Linked DNA regions of Homo sapiens. The protein of the gene in region 2 purifies or fractionates together with the protein of the main gene of each other region. This does not show direct contact. Each region holds a gene or a part of one and is shown on either strand. Other genes may lie near its edges.

Evidence for each region. The genes of interacting proteins can lie anywhere in the genome.
Region 1: the proteins of SC5D (region 2) and LZTFL1 purify together in Homo sapiens (affinity purification with mass spectrometry; one large-scale study listed by BioGRID and IntAct). This does not show direct contact.

Annotation. Positions count from the first base shown.
Region 1 is NC_000003.12:45,835,094-45,840,101, forward strand, and holds part of LZTFL1 (leucine zipper transcription factor-like protein 1), read right to left. Parts: intron 2,959-5,008; coding exon 2,834-2,958; intron 692-2,833; coding exon 497-691; intron 1-496. UniProt on the Homo sapiens protein: Regulates ciliary localization of the BBSome complex. Together with the BBSome complex, controls SMO ciliary trafficking and contributes to the sonic hedgehog (SHH) pathway regulation. May play a role in neurite outgrowth. May have tumor suppressor function.
Region 2 is NC_000011.10:121,294,865-121,299,872, reverse strand, and holds part of SC5D (lathosterol oxidase), read right to left. Parts: intron 1-5,008. UniProt on the Homo sapiens protein: Catalyzes the penultimate step of the biosynthesis of cholesterol, the dehydrogenation of lathosterol into 7-dehydrocholesterol (7-DHC).

The sequences.
Region 1 (5,008 bases), on a different chromosome or scaffold from region 2:
TGAGCTCTTAGATGTCCATATTATAAGCTTTTTTGTATATTTCCTATTTCAAAGTTAATAAATGTATACTTTTAAATTCCATTATTTAGAAAACTTCCAATGCTACTGGATTGAATTGATGGTATTTATTATATTTGAATTGACTTTTCAACTGTCTCATAATCTCTATTTCTTAGTTGACCAATCTATAAAGACTGATGGTAATACTGACCAAGCTAACAAAAATGCTGTAAGAAATAATTAATGATAGCCTGAAAAGCAATTTCATAAATCTCGATGGCCTTTGTAATACCTAGGAACAGTAGAAACAGAGAACTTTTAAAAGGGTGCTTAGTGGTACCCAAGAGATCACTCAGTGACTCAATGCTTTGCTGTTACCCTACCCAAATTTCCTCACACACTAGCCCCAAGAAAATATGCAGCCAAAGATGTTCACTAACTTTTAAGATTATGCTTGGGCCATTATTGTCACAGTTGCAAGTTCAAATTTTATTACCGGTTTTCAAGTTCAGAGATGTCTGTCTGTAGCTTAAGATACCACTTCTCAGCTTGTGCAAACAGCTGTCGCAGAAGTAACACATTGGTATAGGCAGTGTTGATGAGCTCAGATTCCACCTCACTATGAACCACAGCTTGTAATCCATTGAGGACTTCAGAGACTTCATCTATGGTGAAGGTGTCCTCCACCAGCCTGAAAAACAACCATGATCCAAAACTTATAGAAAAACAACAAGAAAAATCTACAAAATACAGCAAAATTAAGAAACCCACATTCATGTAATCTAAGAAATTCAAAGATTACAGTGAAAATCTCTCTGGGAACTATCTTCTTTATTAATAAACATTGAAAATAATTTAAACTCAATTAATTTTTGACATCTATTCAAATGATTAAATTGTGCACATCCTTTAATACAAGTAAATGCTCAAACACATTCCCAAAACCATCATCTACTTTTTTAACTTTTTAGTATTAAATGTCTTATTTCAAACTCCACTGAAATCAGTCTTATTACATTTAATAATTTCAAAAGTCACCCGGAAGGCATAGTCTCATTTCTTTCTAATATTTCTCTAACATTTTAATAACTGTATGAACTATTCACAGGTTAGTAAACGTCTATGGGAAATAAATGGTAATTATATATATTGCTTCTCTTTGCATTCTTGAGACCCAAAATAATAATAATAATAAAAACTAGCTTATCTTAAAGTTCTACTGAACACTCCACAAAAATGAATATCATCATCAACAATAGCATTAGAAATCTACTCTCAGGGCCAGGCATGGTAGCTCATGCCTGTAATCCCAGCACTTTGGGAGGCAGAGGCAGGTGGATCACTTGAGGTCAGGAGTTCGAGACCAATCTGGCCAACACAGCAAAAACTCTTCTCTATTAAAAATACAAAAAATTACCTGGGTGTGGTGGCACGTGCCTTAATCTTAGCTACTTAGGAGGCTGAGGCAGGAGAATCGCTTGTAACCAGAAGGTGGAGGTTGCAGTGAGCCGACATCATGCCACCGCACTCCAGCCTGGGCGACAAAGTGAGACTCCGTCTCAAAAAAACAAACAAAAAAACAAAACTACTCTTACATAGAGAATGCTTGGGTTGGAAGAGAACTTTGGTGCCATCTTCTACAATCCCCTAACTTTACAGATAGGAACACAGGTTTGAAGAGTGGAGATGACTTGCCTATGGTTACATTGGTGGTGACTAAACCCCACAATCATCTTCAGCAATGATTCTGGGCAAAGGATTCATGCCCAACAGCTAAATCCTTGAAAAAGCTTCTGTGTGTGCCTTCCAGTTTCAATGACAGTATCACAGTAACACAGTCCTCTCCTCTCCCTACCTCTACCCTCCAAAGTCCCTTCTCCCTCAGATTCTCAGCAGATGAAGAGCAGCTACCGCAACCTCAGCTTTATTTTCTTCCCTACTTCCAAAAAGACATCATCAAGCAAGACCCAGTTACACTAAAGCATTATCATAGTTAAACTCAAGTTAATAGTATTTGTTTTATAATTCTTTAATGTTTCATCTAGCCAGCAGAATTTAGTCATTCTCAAAAAACCACAACTTTTTAAATATAAATCCTTATTAAAATATTAATAATCTTTCTATATTCTTCAATAGAACATATGTTCTCGCCAATTAAATTGTTGCTTTCATCTGCTGGGGGATAGGAAACCAGATTACCAGATGAGTTTAATGGACTGAATGGTCTAAGGCTGATGGCCTCTAATACTGAGACATTCATGAGTTTATGGCAGCTGGAGCTCACTTGGAGGTCTTTTTCACTTATATCTGACTTGACATTCATCTCTTGCTACAAATCAGCTACGGTCCAACCATTATCATCTCATGCTAGAAATCAACTAACAATTTTGGTACTAGTCAGCATTATGATTTCCTGCTGTTTTCCTCTCTACTAATTATTCAGTATGAAACACAGAAGTGTTTTCTCACTAATTGCCATGTCTTATAGCTCTAACCATTTAATTAATAACTCAAGTAATTAAAGTTCTGGAATCTTCAATACAACAAGCCAATCATTAATCCACAAACCCTTGGCAACTTCCTTCTCAAACTCTGCCATCCTACAATTATCCTACAATTATCACATGCATTTCTGACAATAGATTCATTGCTTTCACCACAATACAACTTCTTTTGTTTCCTGTATCCATGAGGCTTAGTGTAGCTGCTCTTAGCAAATAATTGATCATGATGAATCCCAGAAATTGTCTGGCCTCTGCTATGGCACCCCCATACTGGCTACCAGAAAGAATCCATGTTCCTATTTGGTTTGCTTAGAGTCCTCCTCTGATACCTGCTCTCCTTGAGGTCTTGGAAGCAGGAATCTACAGTTTTGAGTCTCAAGCCTCTCTTTGAACGAGCAAAACGCATATAATTAATAACTTCATTTTGATGGTGCTCATTTAGGCCCAACTCTGCCTGAAAAAGAAAGAGGTAATTTAATTGTTAGTTTTGAAGATCTGATCAAAGAGCCAACAATGAAAATGCATAAGATATCCTGTGGTCGAGACTGCTAGATCTCCATCAAATTCTATTCTTCCCTTCTTCCTGGCTGCATGGCTGCCCACCTAGATGACACTTCCTTGCCCTCCTTGCAATCAAGTCACTGCTGACTACTTCTCAGCAATGAATGTTGTGGTCTACTTCCAAAGACCTGGTCTTAAGATATGGGGTGTACCTCTGCCCCTCCCTGTTTCTCTGAAACCTGGAAGAGGTGGCGACTTGACTGAATCATGCAGACAACATCAATGCCCTAGAGGCTGGGGGAGCCGCAAGATGAAAGGGCCCCACGTCTCTACCTCATGGAGAGGCACTGACCCTCTCACTGAACTGAGATGAGCAGTGAGATGGCTGTTAAGTGAGAGCGAAATAAACTTCTGTATTCTTCAAGCCACTTAACCTTACAGCAAAAAACAGCAACTCTGTTATAGCAGCTTAACCCTTACCCCATTAAATACAGCTTTAACAAGTATATTTGATTTGGAAAGAACCACTAACTGGTCTGTACTTTAAACCAGATGACAGCTTGACAAATATTTAAGAGGCAAGCCCATGGAGGTAGGGCTAGCACCCAAATAACAGAGCAGGTCAGCAGTCAGCTAAGAGCAAGGCATCAGCCATGTTAGTTGGATTTGTAATTAAGCTGCTGATGAGATTTACAAAGCAGTTTAGGTGGCATAAGTCTTTAAGGTCTGGAGGATAGAATGGAGATAGCAAGAGTTGAAGGGAAGCAAAAGGGAAATCTCTAAGGTACTCAAGTACAACAGGTTACAGTCATATATGCACTTGAGTTGTGAATAACAAGACAGATTTCTATTACACACTAAAAATAATTGACTACCTACATTAGAGACAATATTATCTCTGATAGTCACACATTAGTATGGGCAAGAATATCCCACAATTTAGAAATATCACAAAACAATGTCACAATTTGCTAAAAACAAAGCATAAATACAGATTCTTTTTTTTTAGAGACGGAGTCTCGCTCTTTCACCCAGGCTGGAGTGCAGTGGCGCAATCTCGGCTCACTGCAAGTTCCGCCTCCTGGGTTCATGCCATTCTCCTGCCTCAGGCTCCCGAGTAGCTGGGACCACAGGCGCCCACCACCACGCCTGACTCATTACTTGTATTTTTAGTAGAGACGGGGTTTCACCGTGTCAGCCAGGATGGTCTCGATCTCCTGACCTCGTGATCCACCTGCCTCGGCCTCCCAAAGTGCTGGGATTACAGAGGTGAGCCACCACGCCCGGCCCAGATTCTTAATAATTATTCACTGTCTATAGTATTACATTTACACTCTTTGCTCTCCCAAAACCTCCCAAACTCTCTTACCCTGTTTCCCAGGATTCTACTAAATGAACACTCTACTTTAGCCACACTAGTCTGCTCATCAGTCCTGAAACATGACTTAAAATTTCCTGCCTTGACTTTCACTCATGTTACTCTGATCCTAAAGTATCTCTCCATTCCTATTTGAGAATCTGAATCCTACCCAGTGGTATGATGGTAAATATTTAACAGCAGGTTTTCTAGGTAGGGGGGCCTGATTTGTAGCACTGCTGATTTCCATGGCATAAATACTTCCATCATGGCTGATTTCAAGCCACCAATATAATGTCACTGAATGAAGAGGTAAGAAGAAATGCATACAATTGGATCTCACCAGCCAGTACACACATGCTCCACCACATCACTGAATTCCTACCCACCCTTCATGGCCTAACCTGTTTCACCTACTCTGTGCCATCTCCCAATATGCCCTCAGTAACTCTATAGGTATGCCTTCCTCCAAAACCTAGCATATATAATCTCTGCTACTTCTTTGGTACCGTCACAGGCTGATTACTACCTCGTATTATTGATTATCTTTTTTTTCAGGTCTTGCTCTTCCAAGTAGATTGTAAACTCTATGAGGGCATGAACCATTTCTTATAATGCACAACACCTAGCATAGTGCCTTGTGCCA
Region 2 (5,008 bases):
ATTCAGGCTGGAGTGCAGTAGTGTAATCTCAGCTCACTGCAACCTCTGCCTCCCGGGCTCAAGTGATCCTTCTGACTCAGCCTCCTGAGGAGCTGGTACTACAGGTGGGCACCACCATGCCCAGTCAATTAAGAAAAAATTTTTTTGTATGGACAAGGGCTCATTATATTGCCCAGGCTGGTCTCAAACTCCTGGACTCAAGCAATCCACCCACCTCAGCCTCCCAAAGTGCTAGGATTACAGGCATGAGTCACCATGACCAGCTCATATCAAATATTTGTTTAGAAAATGTGAATATTCACATTAAGTGGGATAAGTACATACTGTAAATGGTATTATAATTCATTTGTATATTAACAATTTATGTAATTATGTATGGAGTAACAAATGACAAATGGAAAATAGACTGGTACAGACAATAAACAATGTATTCTCTTTTTAAAAGAAAAATTCAGTAAACTTTCAAATATATATAAAATCAAAGTTAAATACTTGTGCATGTATATGTATACATACACGCAATAAATGTTCATTACATCTGATTGCTTGAGAATCTTAAAGAGAAGGGCCTATCAGGTTGGAATTAGACATTGGTCATGGGCCAGGATCAGGATTCTCAAGTGATAAAGCAACAATATCCAAGATAACCTTTTCAAAAGATTTCTACCAATGTCATCTGTCTTATTAATATATTTCTGCTTAAGCAATGATTATTTACATAATGCCTTCAGTGATCTTCCCATCTGTGTTCACAATATAGTCATCATTTAATCATTCATGTAGTTATTACTATCTTCCCGCTATTGTCAGGCCTCTGAGCCCAAGTCTGCACGTATACATCCAGATGGCCTGAAGCAACTGAAGAATTACAAAAGAAGTGAAAATGGCCGGTTCCTGCCTTAACTGATGACATTACCTTGTAACATTCCTTCTCCTGGCTCAGAAGCTCCCCTACTGAGCACCTTGTGACCCGCAAGAGAACAACTCCCTTTGACTATAATTTTCCACTACCTACTCAAATCCTTCAAAACTGCCCCACCCCTAACTCCTTTTGCTGACTCTCTTTTCGGACTCAGCCTGACTGCATCCAGGTGATTAAAAAAGCTTTATTGCTCACACAAAGGCTGTTTGGTGGTCTCTTCACATGGACGTGCGTGACAATTATGTGCATTTAGAAACCTTTCAGCAATGTCCCCATCACCCAAAAAGTGCCGAACAGAAGCATCAGGATTAATGTTCAGCATTTCTTCAACATCAGCTTCTCCTGACGTATTTATGGTTTGGGCCATTAAATGTATGGTATAATTAAAGAGATTAGGTATCATCACCTCATTAGTGATAGAAAATCTTCCAAAATATCTACAGGTTCATTTTCAAACCTCATTGTCAGCTAAAATGTTAAACATTTATTATTGCTGATTTATCAACATCATTTCAAGCATTAAGTAATTTTGACAACAGGATCTTTACAACTGAACTCTTAAAGGAAGTTTTGATTCCTAGGCCTCCCTTAACTGTGCAAGCAATATACTTGCTTTTTCCCAGAGTGTAGCACTCCTTGGAGAAAAAGATTGTATTCTGGTCAGGCATGGTGGCTCATGACTGTAATACCAGCGCTTTGGGAGGCAGGCTTATTCCTTGAGCTCAGAGGTTGGAGAACAGCCTGGGCAATATACTGAAATCCCATCTCTACAAAATATACAAAAATTAGCCGGGCGTGGTGCACAGCCCTGTGGTCCCAGCTACCCTCAGGAGGCTAAGGTGGGAGGATTGCTTAAGGAGTTCAAGGCTACCGTGAGCCATATTCGTGCCACTGAACTCCAGCCTGGGCAACAGAGCAAGACCCAAAGAAAAAGGCTGTATTCTGGTCACAGTGAAGTAAAAGTAAATGATTAAAAACTATAACCTACAGTTGAGGAGAATGCATAAAAGAGCTGTCTAGAAAGTAAATTTTCAATTAACTCTTGTCATACTTTTAGATATTTTTCACCACACTGCTTCCTAAGTTTCTGAATTCTTCCTTGTTAATACTAAATACATCCTTCAGTAGCAGGTCTTCATATATGCCAGCTTTTTCCATCATCAACAAAGCAATGAGTGGCATCTGTTTACTTCCTATTGTGAAATCCACTTAACCGAAACATGGTTAGAATCTTCATTTTCAGTCCTCTGCAATGTCTCCCTATTTTTCATCAATTCTTAGTCCTTACTACCACTATAAAACGTCCACGATCTGTTTTTCTATTCTTTAAGTCACATGTGGTGGTAGTTCCCACACTGCCACGTTAAACCCAAATTAACAAAACAATAAAAAACACCAGGAATACCTGGTAGGTGTGCCAAGACACAATGGGCACCTCGGTCAGATGGAGTGAGAATTTGTCATCAAATGATTTTGAGAGCCGAACTTAAAGCAAAAAGAAAACAACTTTTTGGTTTTACAGGGCTTTCCAGAGTTCCAAATTGTGACTAGGGACTATGGACCTGTGTCCATTTCTGTGAGTTCAACTGAATTATGTCTAATTCACTGTTATATAGGTGTTTACTTAACACATATCTAGATATTTGGATAGGTTCCATTTTTTGCTATTACAAATAATGCTACAATGACAGGCCCTCATTAGGCAGATTTCTAAAAGAAGAGCTGAGCGAAAGAGTTATACACTCATAACTTTGGTAGATATTGCTACATCGCTCTCCATAAGAGTTTAACTACTTTGTAGTCCTCAAACGATGTAGGACAGTACCTTACCTATTTCTCTGCAATCTTACTAGCAGGGGATATCATCAAACTTTCACATATTCATCAAGAAAGAAGGGCTATCTCGGGTATACTTAATTTGCATTTACCTTATTATGAGTAAAGTTGAGCATCATTCCATATATTTAGAATAATTTATATTTTTTTCTGTGTTTATCTGTTTTTATCCTTTGCCCGTTTTCCCACTGAGTTTTTAGTATCTTTATAAAAGTCAAATTCTAGAAGCTCCTTATATATTAGGGAGTTTGGCCCTTTGTTTATGATATGAATTATGAACATTTCCTCACTTTGTCAGGAAAAGAAAAATTTAATTAGCACCAAATGCCAGATATTAACATATATTCCTCATCATACATGCCATTGTTAATTCATTCAAATAAGAACTTATTGTTAAGCACCACACTAGGTAATGAGCATACAAACATTAAACAGACACAGTCTAAATCAGTCTTAAAGGTAGGGCAACTACAAAAACAATTCTAGCAATAGGACACGTGCTGCAATACAGATATATATGCAAATTCTATGAGATCAGAAAAGACAACACAACTACCTCAGCTTATGGTAAAAGGCTTCCTAGTGAATATGATATTAGATTTGGACTTTGAAGGACATCACCAGAAAGAAAAGGTTAGGGATAGCCATTCCAAAGAGAAGTCACAACTGCAAAGCAAGAGAAGAGCATGATGCATTCATGGCTCACTGCGTGTGGTTGGTGGGTGTTAGACAGGGTGATGGGGTGGAGCAGAGGGAAAAACATGTTAGGGGATGGACTTGTAAAGGAGATTTGTTAGACTACGCATGGAGGGATCTGCTGTCCTGCTGAGGAATTTGGACTTTCTCTCACACGCTATGAGGAGACACTAAAGATTTCTAGGTAGGAAAAAGATACAATCAGACCCACATTTCATAAAAACCATTCCATTAGAAATCTGGACTACTAGGCTAGGTGAAGTGGCTAATGCTTATTCCCAGCACTTTGGGAGGCTGAGGTAGGAGGACCGCTTGAAGCCAGGAGTTCGAGACCAGCCTGGGCAACACGGCAAGACTCCGTCACTATAAAAAAGGAAAGAAAAGAAATATGGGTTATCGGTGAGAAGCAGGGAGACTAGTTTGGTTGTTCCTGTGGTAGAATAACCCAGAGAAAATGATAGCCTGACCTCGGGCAGTGGCTGTTAAGACTAGCCAGCAGAGATTTCGCGCAAGTAAAAACACCCACAGGATTTGGATAACCCACGTTTGCTGGGAAGTGAAAGAGAGAGAAATCTAGGATGACTGTGAGACTTTAGCTGGTCTAAGTAGATGGTGATGTCATTGTAATTGAAATAGGGAATACTGGCAGAGCTAGCAGATTTGGGTAGGGTAGGAATAGGGGGTGGGTAAGGAATGATGGTGTGAACAGAAAATAAATCTTGGGACTCCAAAATCACTAAGCTAAGAGAAAAGTCAGGCTGGGAACTATGTTAGGCAAACCTGCCTCCCGCTTTATTCCTAAATAAGACAGCTACAAGGATGAGAAGCTACATCCCTCCCTCACAATTTGCCCTCAGAAAATTCCTTTGTGGATAAAGGACAGACAGGACTCAAAGTCATCCCTCTGAGGCTCACCTGACACAAATGGATTTCTGATTGCTTCCTCTGCCCTATTGTTTATGTAAACATGCAGATTCACTGAGCCAGACGAAATGTGTGCATTCAGTGGAAGGCTAATCAAGGACTCAAAATAATGCAACCTTTGTCTCTTATCTGCTTCTAACCTGGAAGCCCCCACTGTGAGTTGTCCCGCCTTACCAGACCCAACCAATGTACTTCTTACACATATTGATTGATGTCTCATGTCTCCCTAAAATGTATAAAAGCAAACTGTGTCCCCGACCACCTTGGGCACATATTGTCAGGGCTTCCTGAGGCTGTGTCACGGGTGAATCCTTAACCTTGGCAAAATAAACTTCCTAAATTGACTGAGACCTGTCTCAGATATCTGGGGTTCAAAACGGGTTCAATGTAGATCTTAAAACCTAATTATCTGTGGCTCATCTTCTATCTTAGATATAAGCAATAGGCCACATGTAAATATAAATGTGAAGTTCAAAAGCGAGCCTGGTTAGTATACAGGTAGTAGTTGAAGTTATAGGGGTGAAGACTGCCAAGGGAGGTGGTGTAGCAGGGACAGGGTACTACGTAATATCAGATAACATAAACATTTAATAATTGAAAAGGATATTGCTATATCACTAAAGGTTGGTA